3 linked regions of the Homo sapiens genome follow. The protein of the gene in region 3 purifies or fractionates together with the protein of the main gene of each other region. This does not show direct contact. Each region holds a gene or a part of one and is shown on either strand. Other genes may lie near its edges.

The links.
Region 1: the proteins of MFSD6L (region 3) and SPTLC2 purify together in Homo sapiens (affinity purification with mass spectrometry; one large-scale study listed by BioGRID and IntAct). This does not show direct contact.
Region 2: the proteins of MFSD6L (region 3) and FDFT1 purify together in Homo sapiens (affinity purification with mass spectrometry; one large-scale study listed by BioGRID and IntAct). This does not show direct contact.

Annotation. Positions count from the first base shown.
Region 1 is NC_000014.9:77,614,435-77,618,182, forward strand, and holds the start of SPTLC2 (serine palmitoyltransferase 2), read right to left. Parts: upstream 2,204-3,748; 5' UTR 2,146-2,203; coding exon 2,014-2,145; intron 1-2,013. UniProt on the Homo sapiens protein: Component of the serine palmitoyltransferase multisubunit enzyme (SPT) that catalyzes the initial and rate-limiting step in sphingolipid biosynthesis by condensing L-serine and activated acyl-CoA (most commonly palmitoyl-CoA) to form long-chain bases.
Region 2 is NC_000008.11:11,819,739-11,823,386, reverse strand, and holds part of FDFT1 (squalene synthase), read right to left. Parts: intron 1,638-3,648; coding exon 1,509-1,637; intron 1-1,508. UniProt on the Homo sapiens protein: Catalyzes the condensation of 2 farnesyl pyrophosphate (FPP) moieties to form squalene. Proceeds in two distinct steps.
Region 3 is NC_000017.11:8,797,254-8,801,001, forward strand, and holds the start of MFSD6L (major facilitator superfamily domain-containing protein 6-like), read right to left. Parts: upstream 2,113-3,748; 5' UTR 1,868-2,112; coding exon 107-1,867; 3' UTR 1-106.

The sequences.
Region 1 (3,748 bases), on a different chromosome or scaffold from region 3:
CAGGCGGATCACGAGGTCAGGAAATCAAGACCATCCTGGCTAACACAGTGAAACCCCGTATCTACTAAAAATACAAAAAATTAGCCGGGCGTGGTGGCGGGTGCCTGTAGGCCCAGCTACTTGGGAGGCTGAGGCAGGAGAATGGCGTGAACCTGGGAGGTAGAGCTTGCAGTGAGCCGAGATCGCGCCACTGCACTCCAGCCTGGGCGACAGAGCGAGACTCCATCTCAAAAAAAACCAAAAAAACAAAAAAAATCATACCTCGGCCTGGTGCGCCTGTAATCCCAGCACTTTTGGAGGCCAAGGCAGGCCAATCACCTGAGGTCAGGAGTTCGAGACCAACCTGGCCAACATGGTGAAACCCCATCTCTAATAAAAATACAAAATTTAGCCGGGCGTGATGACGGGCGCCTGTAATCCCAGCTACTCGGGAGGCTGGGGCAGGAGAATCGCTTGAACCCAGGGGGTGGAGGCTGCAGTGAGCCGAGATCGCGCCATTGCACTCCAGCCTGGGTGACAAGAGCAAAACTGTCTGAAAAAAAAAAACAAAAACAAAAACAAAAAAAAAATCATACCTCAATGAAATTCACCTGCAAATGTATTTTCTAACTCCTACCCGTTAAATTTCCCTATTACATTCTATACCACAACAATTTTGTCTTATAAGTCGTTTACATTGCTAGGAAAACGACAAACTATTCCACTGCTTATAATGAGCTGACTGTTATCACTTCCTCCCTCACACAATTATTTCTTTAAAAGTGAAAACAAATCTTTTGATCTGTGTATTACTTCGCTTTGACACCTTACAACTTCAGGGGAGGTCAAGTCTGCTTTACTTATTTTTCCCCTCAACTCAGTCTCAATATCTCAACATGACCTGGAAAAATGCTTTATTTTCTGCTTCGCAGCAAACAGTAACAGACCTATCCATCATAACTACTCATCTGGGGAGTAGTTATGTTAAAGCCAAATTAAGATCACCATCCTATCAAACTGCAACAGTCACACTCCCGCTAAAGGGAAACAGAGTACTTTCTAAGCGTTCCTTAATATCTGTACAAGACTTAAACGTATTAAAGTCAACTGCAAAATTATCGCAACACTCTCTTCCAGGAACACCGATCTTGCATCTTTTTAACCAGCTCATCTTTAAAAACACATTTCAACAGAATATCTGTCAGTCCAGACCACTGTAAGGTTGATAATAAGCATTGTCTTGAATTTAGAACTTTTCAAAATATTTTAGAACTGCCTGAACTTGGTTGATGATTCAGCATGGTTAATTAGTATAGAGTCATCGCAAGTCACCACCAGGCTAAACAATCCCCTTGTGTGATAGCACTCGTGTTCAGGAAAGGGTCGAAGGGGCCACCTAATCCAACCTGGAGCCTGGGGTAGAGTCTCACCACCGGCAGAGTTAAGAGAATGATGCTTTCGAGGGACCAGCTTGGATTCCCTGCCAGATCTATGGACCAATGTCCTGGTTGGGGACTGAACGTGGTAGTCCAGAATGTGGTTGGGAGAGGCTGGGTGTGTTTCCATCTGACACCACCGCCTAATTTTCTTTGCTTCTTAAGGACCCCATGGGTGGTTTTCTTTGGACGACTGCAGGACTTTAAAAGGAAGCAATAACCTCAGGGGTTTGAGAAGGGACCCTCCGGAGCCCTTGGGCGGCTCCCACTGGAGTCCGAAGGGCCCCTCATCGCTTCCCCTGGGGACAGCACACACTTCTGGCAGAATGGGGCAGAGAAAAGTACCCGGAGCTCTGAGCAGAACCCAGAGCTCCGGGAGTAAGACCTCCAGGCGCGGAGAGGTGGGGAGCCCCCGAGCCGTCCTTGAGCCTCCAGGCTCGTGGAGGTCGGGCCAGCGGCCGGACACTGCCGCCCACACCTGCGAACGGCGCCCGCCCCGCGGATTGCCCAGCGGATGGCCCGGAGACCTCGCCCCGCCCGGCCGCCCCTCCGCCAGTCCACACCGCCACCCCGGCCCCGCCGCGCGGGCCCCTCGTACCTGGCCGGCGGCGGCTGCGGCTGCGGCTGCAGCGCTGCTCCTCACGTACCCGTTCCGTACTTCCCCGTTCGCCACGCAGCCATTCGCCCGCACCGTGCGGCGGCAGCAGCAGCCTCCGGGCTCCGGCCGCATCTTCCTGGCAGCACCAGGCGCAAGGCAGGCTCTGTAGGCGGTGGCAGCGGCGGCGGCTGCTCCAAGTCCCGCTCCGCACCCCACCCACCTCCCCGAAACCGGAAATGGCTGCAGCGCCGCCGCCAATTCCCGGGCGGGCCTTCACAGAGGGCGGGGCCCTCTCCGCAGAGGACCGGTCTCGGCCAAGGCCACGCAGCGAAGGGAAAAAGCGGCGGGGACCTGCCGAGAGGGATGTGGTCCTGAGGACCGCTGACCAATCTGGAAGAGAAGGAGGCGGACCCCATGCTGCTGCCTGGCCAATCACGGACGAGAGCAAAGCGCCTCGCCGGTGGAGAGGGGGCTTCTCTAGAGGGACTCCAGGGCCTGGCACCTGATTGGAGGCCGCATCCAGGTCCGGGGTAGGGCTTGCCTGTTTAATGGTCCAGACCGAGGAGGAGGCGGAGCCCAGGGAAAAGTAGCCAATTAGAGTGTGAGGAAATAAAAGGGGCTGAGCCGAAGTCTCTAGAGCGGGTTCCCAGGTTCTCCAGGACAGGTGGCGCCCTCTTTGCCCTTGCCTCGTGGGAAGTTTTGGAGTTTATGTCCTAGCCCAAGACAGGCAGCTCGCTTATTTAATTAGCTGATTCCTCTGTGAGTGTTTATAGAATAGATTTTTTGACAATCTCTCATCATTCTTCAATATGCGCCACACATTCACTATTTCTGAATTATTATAAGTAATAATTCAGATGCCTTTTCACGTGCCCTTCACATTTGCCCTTGGCAGGGTTTTCTATACAGTCTCCTTTAAATTAAGTCTTTCCTTCAAAGTTAGAAAACCTGGTCTAATTCCAACTCTGCCAATAACTGGAAGCTAAAACTTGAGCACTGTGTTTAACCACTTTAGAAGCCAAATTCTTTAAAATGGAGTTAATACTTCCTGCTTCATAGACTTACAGCAAGAATTATATCATTAACCCATTATGCACCTCTTATAATACTAGGCTTATAGTAGGAGTATAATAAATATTATTTTCTCACCCTTTTAGTTCCATCTTCCCATGGGGTTAGAAAGCAAGGAAATTGATCTACATTACAATTAGAGACTTTCTGTTATCCATAAAGAATTTAGTATCATAATTGAGAGTATGGACTCTGGAGTCGGTCTGGGTTTTAAATCCTAGCTGCGCCACTTACTAGCTGAGTGACCTCTATGTGTCTTCATCTGTTCAGTGGGGACAATAATAGTTGTCGTGAAGATTGAATAAGTTTATGTATGTAATGTATTTTGTACAGGACCTAGCAATTAGTAAGCATTCATTAAGTGTTGGTTACTAGTAATTGCTAAATGCACCTATGAGAATCCGTGCATTCTTTCCCCACCCTGCAGGAGCTTTAGAAAGGAGGTCCACAAGGTATTGGTTTTGCATGACTTAGGAGCTGAATAATCTAACAGAAGGTGGGATCATTCATCCCACACATCCTATTTGAGTTGACAAACACTATTGATCCCAAAGTGAATATACATCTGTATGTATAAGGCTAAAAAGGAAACATGTGGCTGTGCTTCATGGAGCTTACATTTCAGTGAGAGACAAGATATACACATAGAAAGAAAACAATAGTT
Region 2 (3,648 bases), on a different chromosome or scaffold from region 3:
AAAAAATTAGTATATCTATAGTACTATCCAAAAATATATTTGAAGATAATAGTTCTTTTGGTAGAAATACTCCTAAAATGGAGACTTATATAATTCATCTTCCCCCAAAGTAGAAGAAAAAAAATAACTCCTTGAAATAATTGGCTGGTCATGCCTGTAATCCCAACATTTGAGAGGCCAGAGTGGGAGGACTGTTTGATGCCAGGAGTTTGAGACTAGCCTGGGCAACATGGCAAAACCCTCTCTCTACAAAAAATGTACAAAAATGAGCCTGGTATGGTGTCATGCACTGTAGTTACAGCTACTCGGTAGGCTGAGGTGGGAGGATCACCTGAGCCCAGGAGGTTGAGGCTGCGGGGAGCCGTGATCACACCACTACACACCAGCCTGGATAACAGCAAGACCCTGTCTCAAAAAAAATTTTTTTTAATTCAATTTTATCTGATCAAAACTTCTATTCAACAACCTAAAATTAAGTTTCCTGAATAAATCTGCACAACAGAAAATGAGTTACTATCATAACCAGTGCTGGTTCTTGGCCAGAAGTTTTAACTTCAACTTTATTTTCTTTCAGATGGTGTCTTGCTCTGTCACCCACGTTGGAGTGCAGTGGCACAATCATGGCTCACTGCAACCTTCAACTCTTGGGCTCAAGCAATCCTCCCACACCTCAGCCTCCAGAGTAGCTGGGACCACAGGCACATGCCACCAATTCCCTGCTCATTTTTTAATTTTTTGAAAGACGGGGTCTCGCTATGTTGCTTAGGCTTGTGTCTAACTCCTGGGCTCAAATGATCCTCCCACCTCAGCCTCCCAAAGTGCTGAGATTACAGGTAAACCATAGTACCCGGCTAACTTCACCTTAAATGCAGAAATTGATTTCTAGCAGTCATTGTATGCTGTTAACTTAGGAAGCACAAATCAGCAGTTCCAAAGATAACTGCTGTCAAGTTTTGAGGTTTGAAAAATTAAGAGGCCCAAGACCTTGGACCTACACTAACGTAGTGACCATGTAGCAGCATCTTTTCGGAGATCCTAATTTAAGCACAGTTAAAGGTATGAAATACATCAACACTTTAGATGTCTGAAATGTCTCTGCCTGCTAAATCTGACTGGCTTTAAAATAAATAAATAAAATGTCTTTACTTCCACAGAAGTGATGAGTAAGTCTCACAAACACCATTCCTATGAAAAATAGGCAAGACTCCTAACCCTACCTTATGTTTTGATGTGTAGTTTTAATCTTCATGGTCAATTACATCCCTTTGTCTAGATAAGCACTTCTCTCCAGTACCCTACTCCTAGCCTGGCTGATATCCTACATAGCTGCTGGTTTGGAATTAACTCTGGAATAAACTGTTTATGATGAGACATTCAACCTAAACAGATGAATTGTAAAACCAGAGGGGCTGAAAATACTGGACAACTTTTCTTGTTCTGAGCTTCACTATGAGGACTGCCAGCTCTGTCTAATACATCACACACAGACACTGTTTTATGAGACTAACCTTGTCCCACTCCTGTTCAGAGGTCACATGCTTATCCAAAAACTCTGCCATCCCAATGCCCATTCTCCGGCAAATGTCGGCAATCACTGTTTGGTATTTCTCAGCCAGATTTCTAAACTCAAGGGAGATCTGAAATGGAAACCGTAAAAACACAGAAATCATGAAATATGTACAGACATGGCACCAAAGATCACAAGGCAAACAATGGCGGAATTAATCATGACTGCAATGGTTCATCTATAAGCCTAATTTAGGTCACACATTTTTTTTGTTTTTGTTTTTGTTTTTGAGATGGAGTCTCGCAATGTTGCCCAGGCTGGAGTGCAATGGCACGATCTCAGCTCACTGCAAACTCCGCCTCCCAGGTTCAAATGATTCTCCTGCCTCAGCCTCTCCAGGAGCTGGCATTACAGGCATGCACCACCACGCCCAGCTAATTTTTATATTTTTAGTAGAAGTGGGGTTTCACCATGTTGGCCAAGCTGGTCTCAAATTCCTGACCTCATGATCCACTAGCCCTGGCCTCCCAAACTGCTGGGATTACAGGCATAAGCCACTGAGCCCGGCCTCATGTTTCTTATTATTTCATAAATTTCATAAATATTAAAATAGAATGGTCTAAAAATGCTAATGTTTCTAGATTCAAAAGAAGATTCAAAGTCTCACTACACATTTCATCTTTCCAATGTATAATGAGATGCTTCAACATAAAGCTGGGTTTAAGTTTTTGGGAGAACAGCTTGTTTAGAGAAACCTCATTATGAGAAAGATTCATTTGTGCAAACATGGATCAAGCACTTCCTATGTAACAAGTATCATTCTAGGCACTGGGGATATACATCAGGGCAACAAACAGAAACTCAGACCCAGAGTTGCTTCCAAGATGTCCCAGTAGGAACAGCTCTGGTCTACAGCTCCCAGCAAGATCGATGCAGAAGATGGGTGATTTCTGCATTTCCAACTGAGGTACCTGGTTCATCTCACTGGCACTGGTTGGACAGTGGGTGCAGCCCATGGAGGGTGAGCCAAAGCAGGGCAGGACGTCACCTCATCCAGGAAGTGCAAGGGGTCAGGGGATTTCCCTTTCCTAGCCAAGGAAAGGCGTGAGTGACTGTACCTGGAGGAACAGTATACTCTGCCCAAATACTGTGCTTTTCCCAGTCTTCGCAACTGGCAGAGCAGGTGATTGCCTCCAGTGCCTGGCTCGGGGGGTCCCATGCCCATGGAACCTTGCTTGCTGCTAGCCAAGCAGTCTGAGATCAAGCTGGGATGCTGGAGCTTGGTGAGGGGAAGCGCCTCCCCGCCATTGCTGAGGCTTCAGTACGCACTTCTATGCTCACAGTGTAAACAAAGCAGCAAGGAAGCTTGAACTGGGTGGAGCCCACCGCAGCTCAGCAAGGCCTACTGCCTCTCTAGATTGCATCTCTGGGGGCAGGGCATATCTAAACAAAAGGCAGCAGACGGCTTCTGCAGATTTAAACATCCCTGCCTGACAGCTCTGAAGAGAGCAGTGGTTCTCCCAGCTCGGCATTTGAACTCCAGTAACGGACAGACTGCCTCCTCAAGTGGGTCCCTGAGCCCCATGTAGCCTGACTGGGAGGAGACACCTCCCAGTAGGGGCCGACAGACACCTCATATAGGTGGGTGTCCTTCTTGGACGAAGCTTCCAGAGGAAGGATCAGGCCGCGATATTTGCTGTTCTGCAGCCTCCACTGGTGATACCCAGGTAAACAGGGTCTAGAGTGGACCTCCAGCAACTCCAACAGACCTGCAGCTGACGGGCCTCTGTTAGAAGGAAAACTAACAAACAAAGGAATAGGATCAATATCAACAAAAAGGACACCCACACCAAAACCCATCTGTACGTCACCAAAATCAAAGACCAAAGGTAGATAAAACCACAAAGATGGGGAGAAACCACAGCAGAAAGGCTGAAAATTCCAAAAACAGAACGCCTCTTCTCCTCCAAAGGAACGTAACTCCTCACCAGCAAAGGAACAAAACTGGATGGACAATGAGTTTAACGAGTTGACAGAAGTAGGCTTCAGAAGGTTGGTAATAACAAACTTCTCCAAGCTAAAGCAGCACGTTCTGACCGATCGCAAGGAAACTTAAAACCTTGAGAAAAGGTTGGACAAAT
Region 3 (3,748 bases):
CCCGGCTCCCAGCAGTCCAGGGCAGGTTTCTGTCCTCAGCAGGCTGAGTTTTGTTCAGTCCATTCGTTCCTTGCTGGATCAGCACACTCTGGATTTCTCAGCCCTTTCAGTCTGAGTGTTCCTCCCTCATGGCCTTCACAAGCCAGTCCTGTTCTGTCCCCTGCTCAGAGTCACTGGTGTCACTCACCTCCATGGACAGCAGCTTCGAGTACTTGATTTTCCGCTCTCGGGGCAGCCTCCGCTGTATGGACAGGAGCAAGGCCAACCAGAGCAACAGGGCCACACAGCAGGCCTGGTAGAGCACAGCCAGGCTGAAGCGCATCACCACGAAGCCCCCGACAAAGCTGCCCAGGCTACAGCCACTCCCGTAAAAGTGGCCTCGGAACAAGGCACTCAGAGCCCTCTCCATGCGGGGAGTGGCCAGGTCCTCTACTGAGGCCCCCACAGCCCACCACAAAGCTCTGTTGCTAATGGCACTCAAGATCTGAATGGGGAGGACGGACCACCAGCTCCAGAGGAAAGAGTAGTACAGCAGCTGCCCAGCGAGGCAGCTCAGCCCCAGCCCCACCAGGCCCGTCCTGGACAGTTTCCTAAGCAATGTAGCTTTGAACGGATGAAGCAGAATTTCCCCCAGCAAGCTGAGGGCGACCGAGAAACCCATGACCAGCTCGCCGCTCCCATGGTCCTTCATGTGCCAGAACAGAAAGTTCTGGACAGTACTGACGATGGCTCCTACCAAAACAGTGGTGGAGGCGAGGAGAATGAGGTGGGGGTCACCCCCCACAATGGACAGTGCTTTGACCCTTTTGTAGCTGGGCTCCCACTGCTGACAGATGGGAATGGGAAAGGCAATGCTCACCAGTAAGGCCAGGGTGCTGACCACCGAGTACCCATAGAAGTGGACCACACCTCGGGGGCCACTGGTCATCAGGAAGCAGTCCAGCTGCCCCACCAAGGCTGTGATGCCACACACGCCTGCCGACATGCCCAGCAACCTCCAGACCCACAGGCTTCTGTATCGGTCAGTGGCATCCACAAAATCCAGGAACTCATAAAGGCTGTCATCTGCCACCTGCTCCAGAGGCGCTGTCAGCAGCTCCCAGAACGCCACGGACCCCAAGGAGAGGATAAAAGTCCGCCGCAACGCCTCCAAGGACAGGTCAAAAGCCCAGGCTTTCCCCTTGGTCCCTGACAAATTGGCTGGATTCCCGGGCCCTTTCCCCCCAGGAAGCAAGGGGAGGGCTGTCTTGACCACCTCAAAAGTAACTTCCCAGGGATGATCTTTCAGCCCCGAAGTGACAGGATGGAGGAGAGCTTGGGATGTGGTCCTAGCTCCTTCAACGGAGGGCGCTAAGTAGACGTGCAGATCACGGAAAGTTTCTCGGTCACTTTCACCAGGTGGGTTTCTGAAGCCAGGCATTTCCACCTCTGCAGTCCTCTTGGCTGGGTGGCTGGAGGCAGACTCTTGGGCCGAGGTGATGTTCACAGGTAGCGTGACCCCCGGGAGTGCGTCTGTGCTGGTCAGGCCGCTGCTTCCATTACAAGGGAAGTGCACCCGATTTTTGTCTACCGGTGGGACCAGGACCATCAGCAGGCTGGCCCCCACCGAGCCGAGCAGGGAGCCGATCAGAAGCGCTCTCCTTTTCCGGTAGCTTTTGGCCAGGAAGGCACAGACGGGAGCCCAGAAGGCAGCGATTAGGTGCTTGGTTCCCATTAGGGTGCCCACCCAGGGCGCGGCCAAGCCCAGCTGCCTCAGGTAAAGGGTCAGGAACGGGGTCACGCAGGCTTCCCGCACCCCGCACACCAGGTGGAAGAGCTTGGCCACCCCCAGCGCCCTGCTGATGTCCCACCGGGGGTTGGCACTCATGGCTGCCGGGCTCTGTCAGGCCTGGGCCGACGGAGGGCGGAGCTGGGCGCAGGGCGGGCGCGGCCCCAGGTACCCGGGAGGGAGGCTTGGGGGACCGGGGCTCGGAGCGAGTGGGACTGCGCCCCCGGTCTGGGGCGGCGCCGCGGTCACCAGGTCAACGGCCGCCCCCGGCCACAGCCCCCAGGTCCTGCCGTTGGACCGAAAGGGGCCCCGCCCGGAGGGAGAGGCGGGGCGGGGGCGAAGGTGGGGGCGGGGCCAGCGCACCTGCGAGCCGCACCTGCCACGTCCCACCGCCTCCGCGGGCCACCTGCCCGGACGTGCGCAGGTGCGCTAGGGGCGCGTCCGGGGGCCTGTAGGGTGCGCTCTGAGCTAGGCCTCGGGCCCCGCCTGGCCTCTGGCTGCCAATGTGGCCCAGGAGCCTGAGCTAAACGCCTGGACTGCTTCAGGCAAGTAAAACCGTCAGAGTCGGCGTGGGGGGGAGCCAGAATGGAATGAATGGTATCCACCAGGCTGTCTCCCTCATCTTCTTCAGGTCTGTACTGGAATGCACCCTGATCAGTGACCAACCACAGACAGAGATCAACACGGTCCACTCTGACATCGCAAATCCCATACCCCTGTACCCACCCCGCCCCCAAGACTCCCACTCCCCTGCCCTACTTGATCGTTCTCTCTAGAACTTATCACTGACCAAGGCACTACGGGCTTATATTTCATGTGTTGACTTTGTTTATTGTCTGTCTCCACCAGAATCCAAGCTCCAGGAAGGCAGGTATTTTTGTCCCCGGGGCCTAGAATTGTTTCATTGGATGCATACTGCCCTCGGAAATGGCATGACCTTGGGTGACATGGTTGTCTCCAGCTGGGACAGTCCCTAAGGAGGGCTGACAGCTGATGGCAGTCGTCCAGGGGAACTCCTTGCAGCCGATCGCCAGCACATGGCAGTCCCCAGAGCCATATGTATGTGCTGCACAGTTTTAACCTACACCTAAGGGTGGTCTGGTGCCCTGTTTGAGAGTACACACACTTGAGGTGGTTAGCTAGCATTTCATCAAAAAGACAGAGACAGCTAGTACAAGCACGTCGACAATCTTAAATCAACAGAAGTGTCTTCACTAATGGACATAATAGATATTAGAAATAGTTTTTCACTGGTGAAATTAGTGGTGTCCAAGCCACCTGGATTGGAGATAATTTTTTTGAAGGCATTTCCTCTCTTGCTGGAACAGGCTATAATAATCTAGAGATGGCCTGGTGCGGTGGCTCATGCCTGTAATCCCAGCACTTTGGGAGGCCGAGGCAGGTGGATCACGAGGTTAGGAGATCGAGACCATGCTGGCTTACACGGTGAAACCCTGTCTCTACTAAAAATACAAAAAAATTAGTTGGTTGTGGTGGTGTGTGCCTGTAGTCCCAGCTCCTTGGGAGGCTGAGGCAGGAGAATGGCATGAACCCGGGAGGTGGAGCTTGCAGTGAGCCGAGATCACGCCACTGCACTCCATCCTGGGCAACAGAGTGGGACTCCGTCTCAAAAAAAAAAAAAAAAAATCTAGAGATGCCAGTAGTCCAAACCCTTTGGAAGGATGCTATAGGCTTTGCTTCAAAATGGTCCAGTGTGCAGCTCCTGATTCAGTAAACTTTTCATACAAGGTTTGCTCAGAGCACCTAATTTGGCTGGGGGTGGAGTGGAACTGCTTGCCAACACATGTCTATGTGTAAGGGAATTCGGCCTATGACTTGCCTGCATTGTCAGCTGGTAGAGAGTATGTTGGGGAGCAGGCCCAGGGGCCTCACTTAACCTAAAAAACTGGTAAACTCTGCAGACATCTACTGAAAACCTAATGATTGGTGATGAAATTGGTATGAATCCGTTTATATCAT